Linked DNA regions of Homo sapiens. The protein of the gene in region 1 interacts with the protein of each later gene in a pairwise test. Each region holds a gene or a part of one and is shown in the gene's direction. Other genes may lie near its edges. The genes, in order: SLC41A3 and SMCO4.

Region 1 (2,954 bases):
GCTGGCAGGCCTGATCCAGGTAAGCCTGGCTGCAGCAATTAGAGGTGCGCAGCTGTGTAGTCAGCCAGCAGGCTTGATCTCTTGTCTGAGTGAGAGGCTGAGGGAGGCGGGTGGGGGTGGCTGGACGTGTGGGGCACAGTCCTTATCTTCCAGGAGTTGAGTCAACTTGTCAAATACAGAGGCCATTCCACACTGCACACCACATGCTACATGCCACACACTCCACACCACACAGCGCATCCCACACACTCCACACCACACCACAAACTCCACACCACACACTGTACCCCACACACTCCACACCACACACTTCACACCACACACTCCACAACACAGTGCAACCCACACACTCCACACCACACACTTCACACCACACACTCCACACCACACAGTGCACACCACACACACTACACACTGCATGTCACAGTGCATGCCACATGCATGCTACAGAGTGTGTGCTGCATGCTACATGCTATACAGCTTACGCTACGTACTGCACTGCATACTACACATGTCATCTTGCACATCACTCGTCACATTATGTACTGCATGCTAGACACGGCACACAACATGCCACACACTGCGCGCAGCACATTCATCATCACAGGATAAGAGGAGCAGCCCTGAGGATGAAGCATGTTCCCACGGAACAGGCTGAGGAGTGGTCCAGCTATCCACTGCCTCCCCAACGGTGGGTGGGCAGGGCCAGACCCCTGCAGGGTCTGCTGCTGCAAGGCATGCGTAGACATTGATCAGGGCTGGACAGCAGTAAGCATGGTGAAGGAGATTAAGCTGGTGCCTGTGTTGGGCAGGTATTCAGCACACTGCCTAGACTGCAGCGGGCTGATGGTCCCCAGTGGGTCTGGGGCCTTTGCAGGGAGCACCGTGGGCGCTGGAGGGCAATTCTATGGGTGTGGTGCTGGTACTGGCACTTTCTCATCTCCCAGAGTTTATGGCATTTGTAATTGTGGTATGTTCCTGACCCTAAAGGGTAGGATTAGGGAAATCCCAGAAGTTGTCCTGAGCAGCAGCAGCTTATGACTCCAGTTGGGGAGAAGGAAGGAGCTGGGGTTAGCCTGGACAAGGGATTGAGGAGCCATGAGACCTGAGCAGGCTTGTGTGGACTACCCCATGGCACCTTCAGGAAGGGCTGACTGTCCTAACCTCCAGGGGAGAAGGGCTCAGGCAAACCCAAATGGACATCTCGGCAAAGTCCCATGAGTAGAGCCTATCGCAGCAGAGAGAGCCCCAGCTGGTGAGTGGCAGTGGGTCTGATTGGCCCTTCAGGGTGCCAGAAGCTGGGCCCACTAGAGGGAGGCTAGGTAAGTACAGATGAGGGTCACCTCTCTAGCCACTGCTTGAGCTCGGAGCTGGGCTTCAGACCCCAAGAGAAGCTGGATGAAGGAGGCTGGCTGGGGTTGACCTGTCCACCTTGGTATCTCTCCTTGAGCCTCAGCTAGTGCTTCCTGCCTGTACTTGACTTTCTGACTTGGTCTTCTTTTGTGTCTCTTTGCCCTTCTGACAGGTGACAATCCTGCTGTACCTCGCAGAAGTGATGGTTCGGCTGACTTGGCACCAGGCCCTGGATCCTGACAACCACTGCATCCCCTACCTTACAGGGCTGGGGGACCTGCTCGGTACTGGCCTCCTGGCACTCTGCTTTTTCACTGACTGGCTACTGAAGAGCAAGGCAGAGCTGGGTGGCATCTCAGAACTGGCATCTGGACCTCCCTAACTGGGCCCCGCTGGTCCCATTTGCTCATTAGAATTTCCTCTCACATCAGTGGGATACAGAATTCAGTTTCTCCCTTGCCAGGTCCTTGGGATGGTTGACCCCTGCCTCTGCAGTAGCCTTTTGTGAGTCTGCTAAGGTAGCTCTCACACACCTCGGCTCTGGGGTTGATACCTGAGCCTGCAATAGAGCCCTGAAATCAAGAGCATGGCTTGAGTGTGTGAATATGATGTGTGCACATGCTTAATGAGCGTGCAAGTGTGCACACGTTTGTGGAGAGGAGGGTGTTCTGGCCTGAGAAGGTAAAGAAGAGGCATGTCCAGTATGCTTTGCAGGGTGTGTTTGCTCTTTTCCATGCCCATGCAACCCAGATTGGGGTGGAGCAGGAAGGAGCTCTTTTCTGTTCCCAAGCCTCAGAACTCTTGAGCTGTGGCTTACTTGCTGTCTTCACCAGGTTCAAGCTCCGTGGGCCACACTGCTGCTGTGCCAAGAAGGTGTACAGCCTCCCCAGGATGGGGCCTCATACAACCCTTCATCTGCACTCAACATTTAATCGTGTCCTTGCTGTCTTTTTATTTTCCTTTTTGTTTGTTAGCAAAAACCTCTATTTAGATTTCAATAATCAGAGAAGTGTAAAATAAAACAGATTATATTGTACTTGACCCTTTATGTCTTTAAAGATAGTTAATGCAACCCTGAGGCTTGGGGTCTATAAATAACAAAAGCATCTGGCATTTCTCTAGTGCAGTGTTTCTCAAAGTGGCCTTCAGCCTAGAAACGTCAGTGTCACCAGGAAACTTGTTAGAAGTGCAAATTATTATCCCTCACCCCCTGGCCTGACTAGCCAAATCAGCATTTCTTGGGAGTAGAGCCAGCTATATGGGTTCCACAAGCCCTCCAGGTTTCTCATACACACCCACGTTTGAGAACTACTACTCGAGAACATCATCTTTAAAAAATGTATGATCATTTCCTGTCTCTTATTAACTCATCAGGACAACTGTAGCCATGCTTGGACTTGAAGATTATTATCTTCATGTGGTAAAACAGACATCTATTCATGTATTCAACAAATGTTGATATAGAACCTCTTGTTTTAATGTTCTAGAAGGAAAGACATGGTACATTAACTGGAATAATTGAGCAGACTTTAAGGAAGGCACAGTTTATAGGTGCATGGGGACCAGAAGAAGGGGTGAAGCATCCTGGGGCCAGGCACTAC
Region 2 (3,820 bases), on another chromosome or scaffold:
GCCAAGAGATGGCACGACTCTGGTACAGCTGTCGTGCATAAGTTACTGATGATCTTTCAATCCATGTACCATTTTGTTAACAGTGGAAAAGGAATTCTCAGCTATCCTACAGGGTTGTGCTAGTTAAATGAGATACTGTATGTGAAGAGCAACAAGTAAACTCTTAACGGGCTCCCTAACCCAGCACATTTTAACATAAACACTTGTAGACTCTGGAAGCAGTGTGGTGAAGTGGTTAAGTTCAAGCGTCTTGGGAGTCTGGCAGGCCTGGGTGTAAATACTGAACCTGCTGCCTGACCTCTCTGAGCCTGGTTTCCACATGTGTAAAATCAGGATAATACTGTCTGTCTTATATTCAAGAAATGTACCCACTAATTGCAGTGGGTGCTGAGTAAAGATTGGCATCCACTCCTTTCCCTTGCACACAGGTACTTGGGTCAATGGGATTGAGTAAGTCTTTCAGCAGTTGTCCTCAGGGGGAAAAGGCTTAAAGTACTTTTTGTACTTATCAATGATTCTTCTAGCCTTTTTGCCTTCCCACCCTAAGCCCCAGCACGCGCAATGAATATTCCAGGGCCTGTGATTGTCTTGTCCAAGGGAATTGAAAAAATCGTAAGCCAGAAAGGACAGGTCTTTGATAGAAAGTTGAAAATGGATGTAGCTGGTTTCCCTTTGCCCATTTTGTGGCCTTCCTCCTTTTTTTTTTTTTTAAATTAATTTTGTTGGACAGGGAAAAGATACAGAATTCAGGGGGTTCTAGCTGGAAGGGGGCCCTGGAAGAGCCTATAGTATAGGGCAGCTAGAGAGAGGAGTGGGCTGGCTGACGGTCAAAGCTAGTTTGGTGTGGGGGAAATTTCTGTTAGATGCAGGATTTGGCTTAATATGGGACCAATTTCCATCTAGTCCTTTAAGGCCCTCTTTTGGGACTCTGAAGTTTTTGTGCTCCAGGCAGATTTTGACTGGTTGTGGTGGCATCACAAATGAGTTTCCATAGTAAATTGTATGCTGAAAGGAAATTAAATTCCAAGAGGGTGTTTGTTGTGACTGATGCCAGAATTTCCTCTGAGAATTTTATTAACATTCAGTCTGTGAAAGTACTTCTTAGTTCTCTGAAGATAATAATTAGGAAATAGTTTTTAAAAAGTAGAAGTGTCGTCTTTGTGAGCTTTTGAAATGTCATCTTCCTAAATCTTTGGAGCAAATGAGGCTCAAAACATCATAGAGACTTATATTTTAAAAGCATTTCTTCCTAAATGTACTGTTTTCCTTCTCTTCCTGTTCCTTCCGTCCTCCTACATTATTTTGATAATGAGTTAATTTTGGTTTCTTTCACATTGTGGTGGCCTAATTTTTAAATTTATGACCCTTCATTTTTAGATCTTGCATGTATTTTTTTTTTTTTACCCTTGAGTCAATTCTCATTGATTATGAAGAGCTGGTATAGCAAGATGGGAAAGAGAGAGGACCCTGGAGCTAGGTTGGTGAGATCTAGGCTCTTTAGAACTTGGATTCGGTCCTCACAGTAGCTCTGGGAGGCTGATCATGCTATTCCCAACACACAGATGTGGAAATGGGTGCAGAAACACATGTGTGTTCACATAGCCAGCAAGTGGTTTATCTAAGTGTCACTGCAATGATCTGTAGGACTCCAAAGCCCATGCTTCCAGCTGGAAAGGCAGGCAGGGGCCTTGCATGCTGTGCCAGGGTTGGGACTTAGTCCTGTAGGCAGAGAGGGTCAGGCCTGTATTCTAGAAAGGTAGCTCGGTGGCTGTCTGGAGTTTTGAAGTGAAGCAAGTAGAAATTAGGTGTAGAGAAACTAGTTCATTAAAGTAATGTCTTGAGAGATGAGGGCCTGAACAGAAGACATTAAGACAGTGGCAGTGGTTGCGGAGAAGAGGGGGCTTGTTGGAATCCATAGAGCTTAGTGCCTTTGGATACTAGAATTGCATCATCCCTTCCCATTTCAGGTCTGATGCCCCAGGGATGGGTGTTGGAGATGCTGACTATGTGCAGGCTAAAAGCAATCTCTGCAGAAACCAAAAGTGCCTCCTTTGGTCTCTGCTAACAGCTAGAGAAAGGTGGCTGAGCACAGTCCGAAAGGGCCTTCCCTTCCCTGTGCCACCCCAGCCTTATCATTCCTAACTTTCCAGGAGCATCGCAGAGAATGAAGTTGGATTCCTCAGACTGCATTTTGGGAAATGCTAGTCAAGGTTAGAAGTGTGGAAGGGAAGACGCCTTCCTGGGGTATTGTCTGCACACCCCTCTTCCCTGGTGGCACAGGGGACCCACCAGGGTTTGGTCCTCAGTTTTGGCTATTCCATAAGAGTTGATCTGCCCTAGATGGGGTTAACTTGTGGTCACCAAACTTGCAGGGGTTGACTGGGAAGCAGGAGTGGCAGTGAACATAATGGCCAGCCCCAAGAGGAGTCGAGGCCAGCCTCCTCTGACGGGTGCAGTCTCTGCGGGGCGCCAAGCCATGCTCAGGGAAGCGGGCATCAGAGCCCAAGGAGATGATTGGCTGGGGTCTGCATGTCCTGTCATCGGTAGGACGCACTGTTGCCATGTCAGGAATATACTGGTTTTGTGCCCTTTCCCCTAGTCAGTGCCAGACGTGGTCATAAACTTGCTTTTGGGCTTCCGTTTTTCCAAATTGTGCAACATCCCTGCCCTTCTGAGAGTTTGTGCTGGCTCTGGTCAGGCCGGAGGTCAGGTGGTCAGATTCTGGCTTTATTTGGGCTGTGTTCTCGCTGCGAGGAGGAAGCCAGGTTACCTCTGTTGGACCTGCCTGCTCCCAGCATCTCCAGCAACAAGCTGTCTCTGCCGGTGAGTCACTCCGTGCAAGAGTCTGCTCACCCACTTTCTGCTTGATGTTTACACTTTTCCCTCAAAGAGGGAACCTCTTCTTGTTCTGAGGGCACTTCTCGGCAGTCCCCTAGAGTGTCCAGTTGTTTCTTTTGTGGGGTAAGAACCCGTGCCAGACAGGTACATGTTTTAATGGGAGAAGAGCATTTCTGCCTGTGGATATGAGCTGTCATGCCTACCTCTTGAACATTATGTCCTGAGCAAAGCCCTTTTCTCGTTCTTTTTGCTTCGTGTTTAGGTGCGTGTTTGGGTGTGTTTGCTTTAATTATTACTGGGAAGCAAAAAAGATATTTATCAAAGGTTTAAATCTATAGCAGTGCCCCTGCAAGCAGAAAGAAGAAGTATATATTTAGCCAGGATATCATTGATTTATCACCCTTTTTTCCATTTTGTTCCTGTTTTGTTGGCAGGACCATCTGATTTGTATACTGGTTCAGTTTGGATTTCAGTAGTGAGTGTGAAAAGATTCCTGGGCTGTTTGCCGAAGTGGAGGGACTCAAATGCGTGGGCTTCAGGGCTGCCAGTCTTGGCTGTCCCTGCAATCCCAGGAGCCTGGCACATGGTGCCTTTGTCAGGAAGGTGGAGTTTGGCCAGGCCGTTTCTTTGGCTTTGCCTGGGAGCAGCTCTGCTGGTGACAGTGGAGGCCTCCCTCTGCCGTGGGAAAGGGAATTCTCTCTTGATTCCGGTTTTGGCTTATTTCTCATCCTATAGGGATGAGAGGGAGGAAGGCCCCAGAACTAGTGAGTTTTGGTGATGAGCAGGTTCAGGGTAGGACTGGTTTGCAGCTTCCACAGAGCTTTTACAGATGTTTTCCTTGCATCCCACATTTTCCTTCTTCCTTGTTAGTCCCAATTCAGTCTGTCATCAGTACTGCAGAAATTGGCTTGAACTTTGTCAGTCTTGGGAAGACCTGGAAGTGCAGCATAGAAACCTGTTCAAATTGGTGCAGCAATTTCAC

The links.
Region 2: the proteins of SLC41A3 (region 1) and SMCO4 interact in binary tests that used the Homo sapiens proteins (3 or more experiments, as listed by UniProt).

The regions. Positions count from the first base shown.
Region 1 is NC_000003.12:126,005,797-126,008,750, reverse strand, and holds the end of SLC41A3 (solute carrier family 41 member 3), read left to right. Parts: coding exon 1-19; intron 20-1,525; coding exon 1,526-1,735; 3' UTR 1,736-2,186; coding exon of another isoform or gene 2,187-2,344; 3' UTR 2,345-2,394; downstream 2,395-2,954. UniProt on the Homo sapiens protein: Na(+)/Mg(2+) ion exchanger that acts as a predominant Mg(2+) efflux system at the mitochondrial inner membrane.
Region 2 is NC_000011.10:93,536,849-93,540,668, reverse strand, and holds part of SMCO4 (single-pass membrane and coiled-coil domain-containing protein 4), read left to right. Parts: intron 1-3,820.